2 separate regions of the Homo sapiens genome follow, and region 2 is linked to region 1. Evidence: fine-mapped expression QTL. A gene starts in region 1. The other region holds a variant in brackets. All regions are shown on one strand. Distances are from middle to middle.

The links. PIP is the estimated chance that this variant, and not a neighbour inherited with it, causes the effect.
Region 2: its variant is fine-mapped to the expression of PEBP4 in pancreas (GTEx, PIP above 0.99).

Annotation. Positions count from the first base shown.
Region 1 is chr8:22,924,752-22,930,125 of GRCh38, reverse strand. It overlaps PEBP4 (phosphatidylethanolamine binding protein 4), which reads left to right and starts at 2,212. Exons shown (of 7, transcript NM_144962.3): 1 at 2,212-2,303; 2 at 2,406-2,542. The coding sequence starts at 2,412.
Region 2 is chr8:22,881,273-22,886,646 of GRCh38, reverse strand. All of the region lies in intron 3 of PEBP4 (phosphatidylethanolamine binding protein 4), which reads left to right. PEBP4-AS1 (PEBP4 antisense RNA 1) reads right to left here. Exons shown (of 4, transcript NR_125433.1): 3 at 1-2,689. Among named protein-coding and RNA genes, the nearest start is that of PEBP4-AS1, 6.0 kb to the right of the region's middle. RefSeq lists an enhancer at 3,217-3,276. The variant C/G (reference allele first, on the strand shown) is at 2,736.

The sequences.
Region 1 (5,374 bases):
GGTCCACGTGAAGGACTCTGGGTCCTTCTCCCAAGAGCAAAGGGAATGTAGAGGGAGTGAGTGAGAGGCAATGGAGCAGCTACAGAGTGCAGTGGAGCCAGGTGGTTAAGAGCGTGGACTCTGGGCTGGGCGCGGTGGCTCACGCCTGTAATCCCAGCACTTTGGGAGCACACAGGTGGATTACTTGAGCCCAGGAGTTCGAGACCAGCCTGGGCAACAATGCAAGACCCCGTCTCTACAAAAAATACAAAAATTAGCCAGAGCCGTGGTGTGCCTGTACTCCCAGCTACTTGAGAGGCTGTGGCAGGAGAATCCCTTGAAGCCCAGAAGGCGGAGGTTGCAGGAGCCAGCATCACCCCATTGCACTCCAGCCTGGGCGATGAGAGTGAGACCCTGTCTCAAAACAAAGCATGGACTCAATGGACTCAACCCAGTTTCCACAGGTTCAACCAGAGCCTGGGGTTCAAATTCCAGGTCTGCCACTTCTTGGTGACCAAGATCAGGTTTTAACTAATGTCACTGTGCTGTCTCCTCCTCCATAAGATGGGGTGATAATAGTGCCTATTTCCAAGGATTGGCATGAGGATTCGGAGATAAAAGTGCCTGGCACGTGGAGTAAGGAAGAACCGCCACTGGAAGTGGGCTCAACAGCAGCAACCTGCACTGTGGGCTCTCCCTTCTTCCAGGCCGCCATCACTGTGCTAAAGGAGTTGACACCCAGAAAAGTTGAGACTTCTCTAGTGGATGCCATTTGGAAGATGAGTTTCTTGGTCTTGGGCAGCCCTTCTGGCAGCATCTCCTTGGCTGTGGCTGTCCTGTGAGCTGCATGCTCAACCTATACCCCAGGGCCCAACATGGGGCAGGCACGTGGGAGGTGCTTAATGCCTATGAGTGAAGTGGGTTGCAAAGGAATGAATGAATGGATGGATCCGTGAGAGAATACTTAGACTATTCATAAATTATTGAGCATTTACTATGTGCCAGGCACCTTACTGAGGGCTTAACCTGGTTGATTTCATTCTCATAATGATCTTGTGAGGAGGCTACTATTAGACTCTGTCCACTAGGGGAGATCTTGGGAATATGTTTTCTGGTTGGGGCAAGGGGGAGTCCTGGTTGTACTTCAGAGAACCTAATGATTGAGAAATGTGTTTAATATGTAGCCCCTAAGGGGGGCTTTTTGCTACAGGTTGGGATCCTGGAGGCAGGAATTGAGCCAGAAAGCAGACTATGCTGAAAGTAGTTTCTCTAAAGGTCTAGCTGCGTGTACTTTACAGCGATGATCTCATATTCCTTAGCAAGGCACCACGGTGACAGGAATTATTTTACTTGTTTGTGAAAAGGAAAAGTGGTGCATTCTAGGGAGACACAGTGGCCTCCCAGCATCCAGAGAGAGCTCAGAGCAGAAGCCAGGAGTCCTGAGTTGCTGGCACGTCTCTCCCACCCCCGCCTCTGAGAAGCAGAGAGCAGAGCTATTGGAAAGCCTGTTGCAAGCCGCCTTTATTCTTCTCCCTGCCCACTCAGGCTCAAACCAGAGTCCCACATGCACCTGGTGGCAGGACTGTTCCCCAAGGGAATGCAGGCGACAGTCCCCGGCTCCCCTTCCTCCCAGTGCACTGCTGGGGCAGGCCACCCCTTTCTGAGCCCCAAGCAGCTCCCCAGACCTCCTTCTCCAGATACGATTATTTTGGGAGAGTGCTGAGTGCAGCACAGCTGCAAGGTGCACCCAGACGCACCCTTCTGTCCTCAGCTGGCCCTTCGGAGCTGGCCCTTCGGAGCTGGCCTCGGTCTGGGGTGCACCTACCCCCACCCCCTGCAGCAGTCCCTCCTACACAAGGTCACTGTGTCCAACCACCTCCACCTTGGGGAAGCTCACAGGCTGTGGAGACAGGTGGTGGAAGAATGGGGGCCAGGAGAGTCAGAGCCGGTCTGAGGGGCACAGCCCAACTCCTAGCCCTGAGCCTGGGGTCACCAGCTTCCCAGGGCTTGCCTTACAGCCAAGGAGCAGGCTGGCCTTTGGCCAGCTGACCATCCCTGGGCCAACAGCAGGGACTGGACAAGGAGCTGCACCGAGGAGCTTATATAAGCACTTCTACTTTGCAGCCTGCTCTCTGCCCTGGCAGCCAGGACAAGAGTGACAACAAAGCTGTGTCCTGCCAGGGGAGGGGCCTCTGCCAGGAACGTACATTGAGTCCAACTTGGAAGAGGCCCAGTCCTCCCAAAGTACTTGTGTCCGGGTGGTGGACTGGATTAGCTGCGGAGCCCTGGAAGCTGCCTGTCCTTCTCCCTGTGCTTAACCAGAGGTCTCTATCCTGCCAAGTGGGCCCCTGGGGTCGGGGGCACAGGTAGTGGGCAGGAAGGCCCCTGCAGGGGATCCAGCCGCTCTAAAGTTCTTTCTGTTCCAGGTGCCCATGGGTTGGACAATGAGGCTGGTCACAGCAGCACTGTTACTGGGTCTCATGATGGTGGTCACTGGAGACGAGGATGAGAACAGCCCGTGTGCCCATGAGGCCCTCTTGGACGAGGACACCCTCTTTTGCCAGTAAGTCAGGGCAGGCTTGGAGGCGGGAGGCACAGAGGCTACCAGGCAGGTAGATGGCAGGGAGGGGTATATCCAGAACCAAGAAGCACCATCTCCTGAGCCTGATTTTATGGGAAGGCAGAACACGTGTCAGATCTGGAGACCACCTTGATGGAGGATGGCACTGAGAAAGGGATTTAGAAACAGACTCCTTCCTGCCTTCCAGAATGCACCTCTCCCAGGACCAGGAGGGCTGTGTATGTGGTCGGCTCTGCTTGGGCCCTCCAAACCTGGGGGGTCTTTGTGGGGGCAGGAGGCTGAGACCCTCAGAGAGAGACCCAGAGAGAGACCATCCCTCCCTGCAGCCTGAATGCCCCCTCTCCCCAGAACCCCAACAAAGAGGCATTTGAATGAAAGAAGGTGTATGATTAGACCCTTCCTGTGTGAGAGGTTTTTGTCAGTGATAGGACCCAGGAGCGTTTGTGCAGGGCCCTTTAGGGATCATGGCACTGGATGGAGTTGGGTGACGAGGCTGGCTTCTTCCCTTCCAAGGGCACAAGCTGCTTCTACTTTGGGTAAGCTGGAAAGCCTGGCGTTCGGCTCTCTCCTCACCAACTCTGCCGGTTAGAAAAGCAAGCCTTCATTTGTGTGGACTTGTGGGTCATCCTGAGGACTCCCCAGGCCAAACTGATGCCAAACCTCCCTGCCAGTTTGGTGGCTGAGGAGGGGGACACCCCACTGAGCCCACGTGTGAGAAATGAGAGAGGAGGAAAAAGAACTTTGACTACTTACTCTCTTCTGTACCTTTGAATTTTCACAAACATTACTGTTCATGAAAATGTTTGTTTTTCTTTTTAATTTTATTTAAAACATTTTTGACAAACATTACTTTTAGAACCATAAATACATGTCTTCTCTTAAAATTATGTAGTTGAATCCTTCTTAAAAAGTAACATTTTTGTTGGGTGAAGTGGCTCACATGTGTAATCCCAGCACTTTGGGAGGCCAAGGTGGAGGATCACTTGAGCCCAGGGGTTTGAGACCAGCCTGGGCAACATAGAGAGACTCTTTTCTCTACAAAACAGTTTAAAAACTAGCCAAGCATGCTGATGCACACCTGTCGTCCCAGCTACTCAAGAGGTTGAGGTGGGAGGATCGCTTAAACCCAGGAGGTCAAGGCTGGTCTGAGCCATGATTGCGCCACTGCATTCCAGCCTGGGCAACAGAGCCAGACCCTGCCTAAACAACAACAACAACAACAACAAAAAGTAACAAACTTTGTTCGTGTCAGTATATTTTGAAAAATCTTGTTAAATAGTTCTGGGTGTAGGCTGGGCACGGTGGCTCACACCTGTAATCCCAAGACTTTGGGAGACTGAGGCAGGCAGATAACAAGGTCAGGAGTTTGAGACCAGCCTGACCAACACGGTGAAACCCTGTCTCTACTAAAAATAAAAAAAAATTAGCCGGGCATGGTGGCGCACACCTGTAATCCCAGCTACTCAGGAGGCTGAGGCAGGAGAATCCCTTGAATCTGGGAGGTGGAGGTTGCAGTGAGCCGAGATTGCGCCACTGCACTCTAGCCTGGGCGACAGACCAAGACTCTGTCTCAAAAAACAAACAAAAAAACAAACAAGCAAGAAAACAGTTCTGGGTGAAGTTTTCACGTGGAAGGAGGAAGAGAAACGTGGTTGCCTCTCACAAGTGGGATCTAATTTTCTAGGTGCTCTGCTGAGTGAGCTGAGGGGCTGGCAGGCTTCTCGCTCTGAGCAGTGCAAGGTCAACACCCCCGTAACCAGGAGAGGTCAGCTGGGCCAGGGTACAGCAGGCCTGGGCCACAATAAGGGCCCCTTAAGGAGGACCTCAGCAGTTCCTGGTGTTTCCCACACTGTGGGAAATGAGGATGTCTGTAGGGTCATTGGGGGTGACCAGCCTGAGGCTCCAGATGCCCTAGGCTCTGCCCTGCCAAGATCACATGTTGGTGCCCTGGTGACCCATGCATGGGGACACACGTGGGAAGTCCCAGGGCACCTTCTGTGTGCCAGGTGCTCTGCCGGTGCCTGGACTCCTTGACTCCTTTCACTGTCAGTAACGAACCTACAAAGTCTGTGTTAGCACCCCCATTCTGCAGATGAAGAATCCCCAGAGATTAAGAAATCTGCCCACAGTGTTTACATAGCTTAAAAGTAGCAGAGCCAAGATCTAGCCCCCTTGTCTGACTCCACACTCACGCTCTTTCCCTATCTGCTTCTGACAACCTTCACCCCAGGTTCAGGGCTCCCAGACTCGAGTCAAGGGGGCCCATTCTCAGGACTCCCAGAATACACCAGCAGGCCCCCAGTCTGAGAAAGAGACTTATGACCTTAAGGTTGCATGCCAGGAAGATGTCTTTTGATTTCAAGCCATCATCGCAAAAGAGGAGCTTTGTCTTTATTGTCACTGAAGATTTTTGTTTGGAAGAGAGCATCATGAATGATGATGAAATGAAAAATGCATCAAGGACAGATCGGACCCCTGAGGAGACAGCAGGACCTCCTGCACTGACCCCTCCTCAAGATCCCCACTCGGCTCAGGCTCTGACCTTGGCAAGAGATCCCCCAGAGAAGGCACTCCTCTTGTGGGCATTTGGTCTACCAGGGAACTCTTAAAGATTGGACTCAATGCCTAAAGGTATTAATCTATAAGGGAGGAATTTTATGTACTGTGACAAGCTGTGAGACATTGTTAAGAGTAACGCTTCTCGGGAATCAGACCTTCCCTGCTTCTGAGATACCCCAGACAAGACCAGCAAAACCACCGACGGTCCCAACCCTGGGCTCAGTCGCAGAATGGAAAGAACCATGATTCTCCAAA
Region 2 (5,374 bases), 43 kb after region 1:
AGCAGGATGTTTGGGGGCTACAGTCTTACCCCAAAGGGCTGCAAATGGCAGGGTCCTGCATGGCTCCAAACTGAAAGAGGTTACACCTCTCCCTGCCCCTGCATGTTGGCCTTGACCTGGACTTGACATGTGCTGAATGCTTGCTACATGATTCCATTTAACCCTTACACCTCCATGAGACAGGCATTGTTTTCAGCTGCATTTTAAAGATAAGAAAGTCTAGACTTGGGGAATTTAAGAAGCCTTCAAGGTCCCACAGCTGCTAACTGACAAGACGATGGGATGTATTACACGCCTGGTCAGATTCAATGGCTGTGAGGTGTGTTGAATTTCCTCTTGACCAGCATGGATGGAAGAGCCGCCTTTCGCCTCTTCCAGAACTGTGCCGTGTTTCTGAACTCCATGGTTGGTGGCCGCTTCTGATCACTTCTGTCTTGCCTGTCTGTAAAGTGCAGAAATAGACCCTGAACGCCTGTGGGAAGAAACGCTTACTCATTTGACAGTCCTAGCACCGAACAGATAGTTATTCTGGAGCAGGGAGTCAGTATTTGTCTAGTAAGGGTTTCATTGTTGAAGAAATGATTGATGAGTGAGCAAGTGAGTGAATAAATGAATCAACAGGTGAGTACAACTTCCCTCCTTAACCCGTAATTCCATGTTAGTCACAGGAGAGAAGTGAGCCTGTCTCCTGCAAAAGGATGCATAAGTCAACCCTGCAGGCGGTCTGTGACTAGGAAGCCAGGAGGCCGGTTCTTGGGGTGGCCTATAAGCTGGTACGAAAGCAGTTCCCAAACTCAGGTGCTCCCCTTCTCTTGCACACAGACGGTGTGCCTGGGACACAGAGCTGGCTTCCCAAGAGGACCTGGTGAATACCCACGAGGCGTATTCATCTGCATGCATGAGTCCTGACTTCTTTCAGAAGCTCTCTGGAGACCTTGGGCAGAGTAGCTTCACTAGCAACAGTGCTGAGGACGCCAGGAAGTGGAGATGTTGTCCACAGACTGTCTCTTGTGTCCTTCTAAGCTGGGCATCTTCTGAGGCTTTTTCACACTGAAACGGAAGAGCACAGCTCCTTTGCTTCAGGCAGAAGGTGAGTGCCAGCTCCCTCACATACTCGGAGGACTCACAGTTACGTCGTGTGCCTGGTGCTGGGGACCAGCAGCAGGTGTAACCCAGCTCGGCAGTCATAGCAGGGAAAGGCCAGTGCCAGCCTGCTGCTTGTACTTGGTCGTGGAGGCAAAGGGCGGGTGCTGGAGTCTGCCAGACCTGGGCTTGAATTCTGGGTCAGCCCTGTACTATCTGTGTGACTCTGAGAAAGTCATCTAACCTCCTGAGCCCCAGTTTCTTCATGCGTAAAAGGAGGAAATAAGAGAAACCATCTCATGATTGTTGGAAAATTTAGATGAGATGATTTATGTGAATTCCTCAGCACTCATAAGCTCTCAATAAACAAGAGCTCTCTTTATGAACTGGCATCAAGCAAGGACGGTGTTCATCTCCTGGGGCCGGGTAATACTCATTTCAGTATCGTCACAGTCTCCTTGCATTGCATTGAATGCACCACTTGGTGCAAAAAGCTTCTCTTCTTACTGCCAACAAGTGTCCACTTCATTTGGGGAGAGTGCATTGAACTCTGATAGATGTAACCTGATAGTTATCTCACAGTAAGTGCTGCTGTGATTCAGGATGGAGATAACACCACAGGGTGGGGCTTTCTGGAAGAGGTGAGCTTGGCCATACTTTGAAGGATGGGCAGGACTTGAATGAGCAGAGATTAAAGGGGAGAGTTTTTTCAGGTGAGATAAAGGGAATAAGACAGATCCCAGACCAGGAGGCAAACATTCACATTGGAGGATGCAGCAAAATTAAGGAGAGGACATTGGGAGAAGAGAGAGAGGATGTTGAATTGAACTTATGTGAAGGCTGGGGACAAGGAAGAAAATGCTCATCGGGGAACAAAGGAAGTCAGAAAGCACCCCGGGCTGGGGGAAATGGCCCTTTGTCAAGGGGGTGGATGCTGCCTTTGGAAGAGGTTCTTTCTTCTCCCTTTCCCCCTCTTGGTGCTCTCAAGTCATGCACTGAGTGAGTCTTGTCAACCAGCTCTTCCCTGATTAACTCTCCTCCCGGAGCCTTAAGTCACGATCTGCACTTGCTTCTCTGTAATAGCCAGGTGAACCGTGCCATCCCACTAGGAGAGAAGAATGCACATCCTGACATTCTAATAGGCTCAGCAGCAAAGACAGTGCTATCATCGTGGTGGTGACAGCAGGCTCCAAGCCCTGCCAGGTAGTTTTCACAACTTTCTAGTCATCCTTGTCTTATTAATTAGGAGAGTCTATCTCATAGATTTGGGGCTATAAATCTCAGATAACAGCTCTTCAACCTTCATAACTGCTTCTAACTAGGTGGTAGAACCAGGTGCATTTCATCTTCATTTTAAAGAGGTCCCTGTGTCTGCTCTCTGTGTGGGAGCCCTCTCTGCAGGATGGGAGCAAGAGGAGCTGCTGATGATGGCAGGCAGCGGGACATTTTCTACGTGGCTCTTCACTGGCCTCCAAAATTGCCAACTCTTCAGCCCTTAAGTCAAGATGCATCAACTCCAGCCCCTTCCCTGGTTCCCTTCTCAGATTGGAGGACACGTGTCCGGGCATCGGAAGCCTTTGCACTCCAACATAAATATGTGTGAACCCTGGAGCGGAGAATTGGTGAAATCAGCTGATGGTGGAGTTGTCCCC[C/G]CTTTTTTTTGTATCCCCCGCAAATAGTATACAGTAATCAAAATTTAAGCCACCTGAGATGAAATAATTGCTTAACAATCATATAAGACAAAATGATTCAACAAATGACAATGAGGCCCTGTGATATACAGAACAGATGCATTCAGTGTACCATATTATAATGCGCTAATACAAGATTGACAGCACAATAATAGGAGTGAGCAGCAACTCAGCCTATAATTCCAAACCAAATGTGAGGCTGTCCACGGAACTCAAATCCTAGCAGGCTGCAAAATTAGAGGTAACACCACGCAAGGTTCAAGACGACTCATTAGCAGGTTGGCAGAGTGTTTCAGGAGCAAATTTTTCTGTCGAAGGAACTAATTTTGTGCCACCTTCAGCTCACCTTTTTTTTTTTTTAAGTGTGCAGATACAACCTTCCCTGGAGAGGGATGTGGGGGTGGGAGGTTGAGATCTGGCCAGAGCCCCTTGGGGCACAGGGAGATCAGGTCACTGGTGTGGGTTTTTGAGTGGGTTTGAGTATTGGGACAGTGATCTGGGTGTGTTAATGGGTGATGCAAAGCAGTGGTGATGTGGCAAACACTATGCAGGCTGATCTCAGTGTGAGAAACTGATGGGACTTTCTGCTGCCTCCTTGGGGCTGTTCTCACATCAGAAAGTGTTTGGATCAAGGATATAATGAAGGATAATTGTGATAAGCATCCTTCCAGGTCCGAATCTCTGAACCTTTAAGCAAGCATCATAATCCCTGCTTTCTATAGATGCCCCTGTTGTTTTGATGGTGTCGGGGATTTGTTTTAATCAGGTGTGGGAAGACATGCAGACACAGAAATGGCTCTCATGAAGGAGGAAGTTTTATAATCACAGATCCCTAGAGGCAGGGGGTATGTCTCGCAGGGCCACATGGGGGATACCCCAGGCTCGGTTGGGAGGCAGAGGGAACTAGGGAAAAACCTGAGTAGGAGTCTTCATCGTGGGAGGAACAGGTGGGGTAGGGTGAGCAGGGTTGGGTTGGTTAGTATGAATCATTTCAATAGGCTCTGGGTATAAGGACTGTTCCTAGTGGTCTAGTACCCACCCTGGGGTGGTTTGGGCAGGTGGATAGTGGCCTGGAGTGTAAAAATCTGATAGAGGAGGTGGTTGGTGGTATGGGCACTGGACTGGTAGGTTTTCATAAGCAAATTGTTCTCACAGAGGAGTTTCCTATTTCTAGGAATTAGCCCTGGGAGGGGCAGTCCCTCCAGGATCAGTGAGGCCCCAAAATGTCAAAGCACAAAAATTACAGAATAAAAAGACACGATTAATACACCTTCATAGTTTCACATTTGCGGCTGCTTTCTCTCCGGGAGCCACGGTCCCTTTTCTGCCAGTTTGAGGCCTCCCTCTGTTCATGATCAAAATAGGGCATGGTAGCATCACCATGCGTGCATGACAAAAAGTCGTGGTACATTCTCCACACCACCCCAAATCCTGGATCTGTGAGGTCAAGAAAGAAAAGCACCCACCTCCCTTCAACTGGGACCCCCTGCTGGCTCCGCCCCCCTCTGCTCAGTGCAGGGCTGCCTGGGTGTGGCCAGCACTGTCTGGGTCACTGGTGCTGTTGACGCACACTTTCCTAGAGTTGGACTAAGACATCCCATGTCTCCAGTTCTGCCAATAACAGGCTGTGGGCCTTGGCAAAGCTGCTGTGATTTCCTGTGTCCCCATTTCCTTCCCTGAAAAGTGATAGGATGGATCCCAGTTCTAAATGCTTATTTTCTCTGAAGAACTGGGGAAAGGATAGGGAGAAGCAGGAAAAAGGTGAATGAGATGGAGGGCTGGGGGGTTCTCTAATCTTCACAGAAAACCAGTGACAGCCACATGTTGGAGAAGCCTCCCAGGTATCATTGACAACCCCTTCCTCATCTGCCCCATTGAGCCAGGGATGGCAGTGATTCAACACCCACAAGGTAGCCAGGCTTCTACGCTTATTACCTTGAGTAATTCTTACAACAGCCTGAGGACAGAGTAGCCACTCTCAGCACCATTTTACTGCTGGGGAAACTTAGGTGTGGAGAGGTTAAGTCAATAGTCCCCACCTGCTCACGGCCACACAAGTAGTAATGGAGCGTGGCCTCCCACTCCACAGTTTCATCCCTAATTGCTGTATGCTACTGCCTCCCTCTGTCATGGGCAGGATCATCCATGTAGGACTGGATGGCTTGAGTGTGATCCAGGCAGCAACAGAGATTCATTCCAGGGGGAGTTATTCCAAAGAGGGAGAGTGAATCCCAAAGGAGAAGCATTGCCCCATGGGGAGAACGCTATTTGGAACTTAAGGGATTTCCACTAATTTCTTCTCTTAACAAGTATTTTGTGTCTATTAGATACCTGGCATGGCTCTAGGCACTGGGGACATACAACTGCGAGTGAGATGGTCCCAGTCCTGCACTCAGGAAGTTTTCAGCCTGGCAGAGCAGGACAGACATAAGAAAAGTGAACAGATAAATACAGTAGCTGCAGGAAGCCCGAGTCTGAGGGGCTCTGGCCTGTCTGCATCCAGGTCTGTAAGTTGGCCAGCCTTGGACACTTGGAAAGGCACAAGTCCTTGTAGGTGATAGGAAGGTCTGAGGAGCCAAAAAAGAGGGTGAGAGGCACCC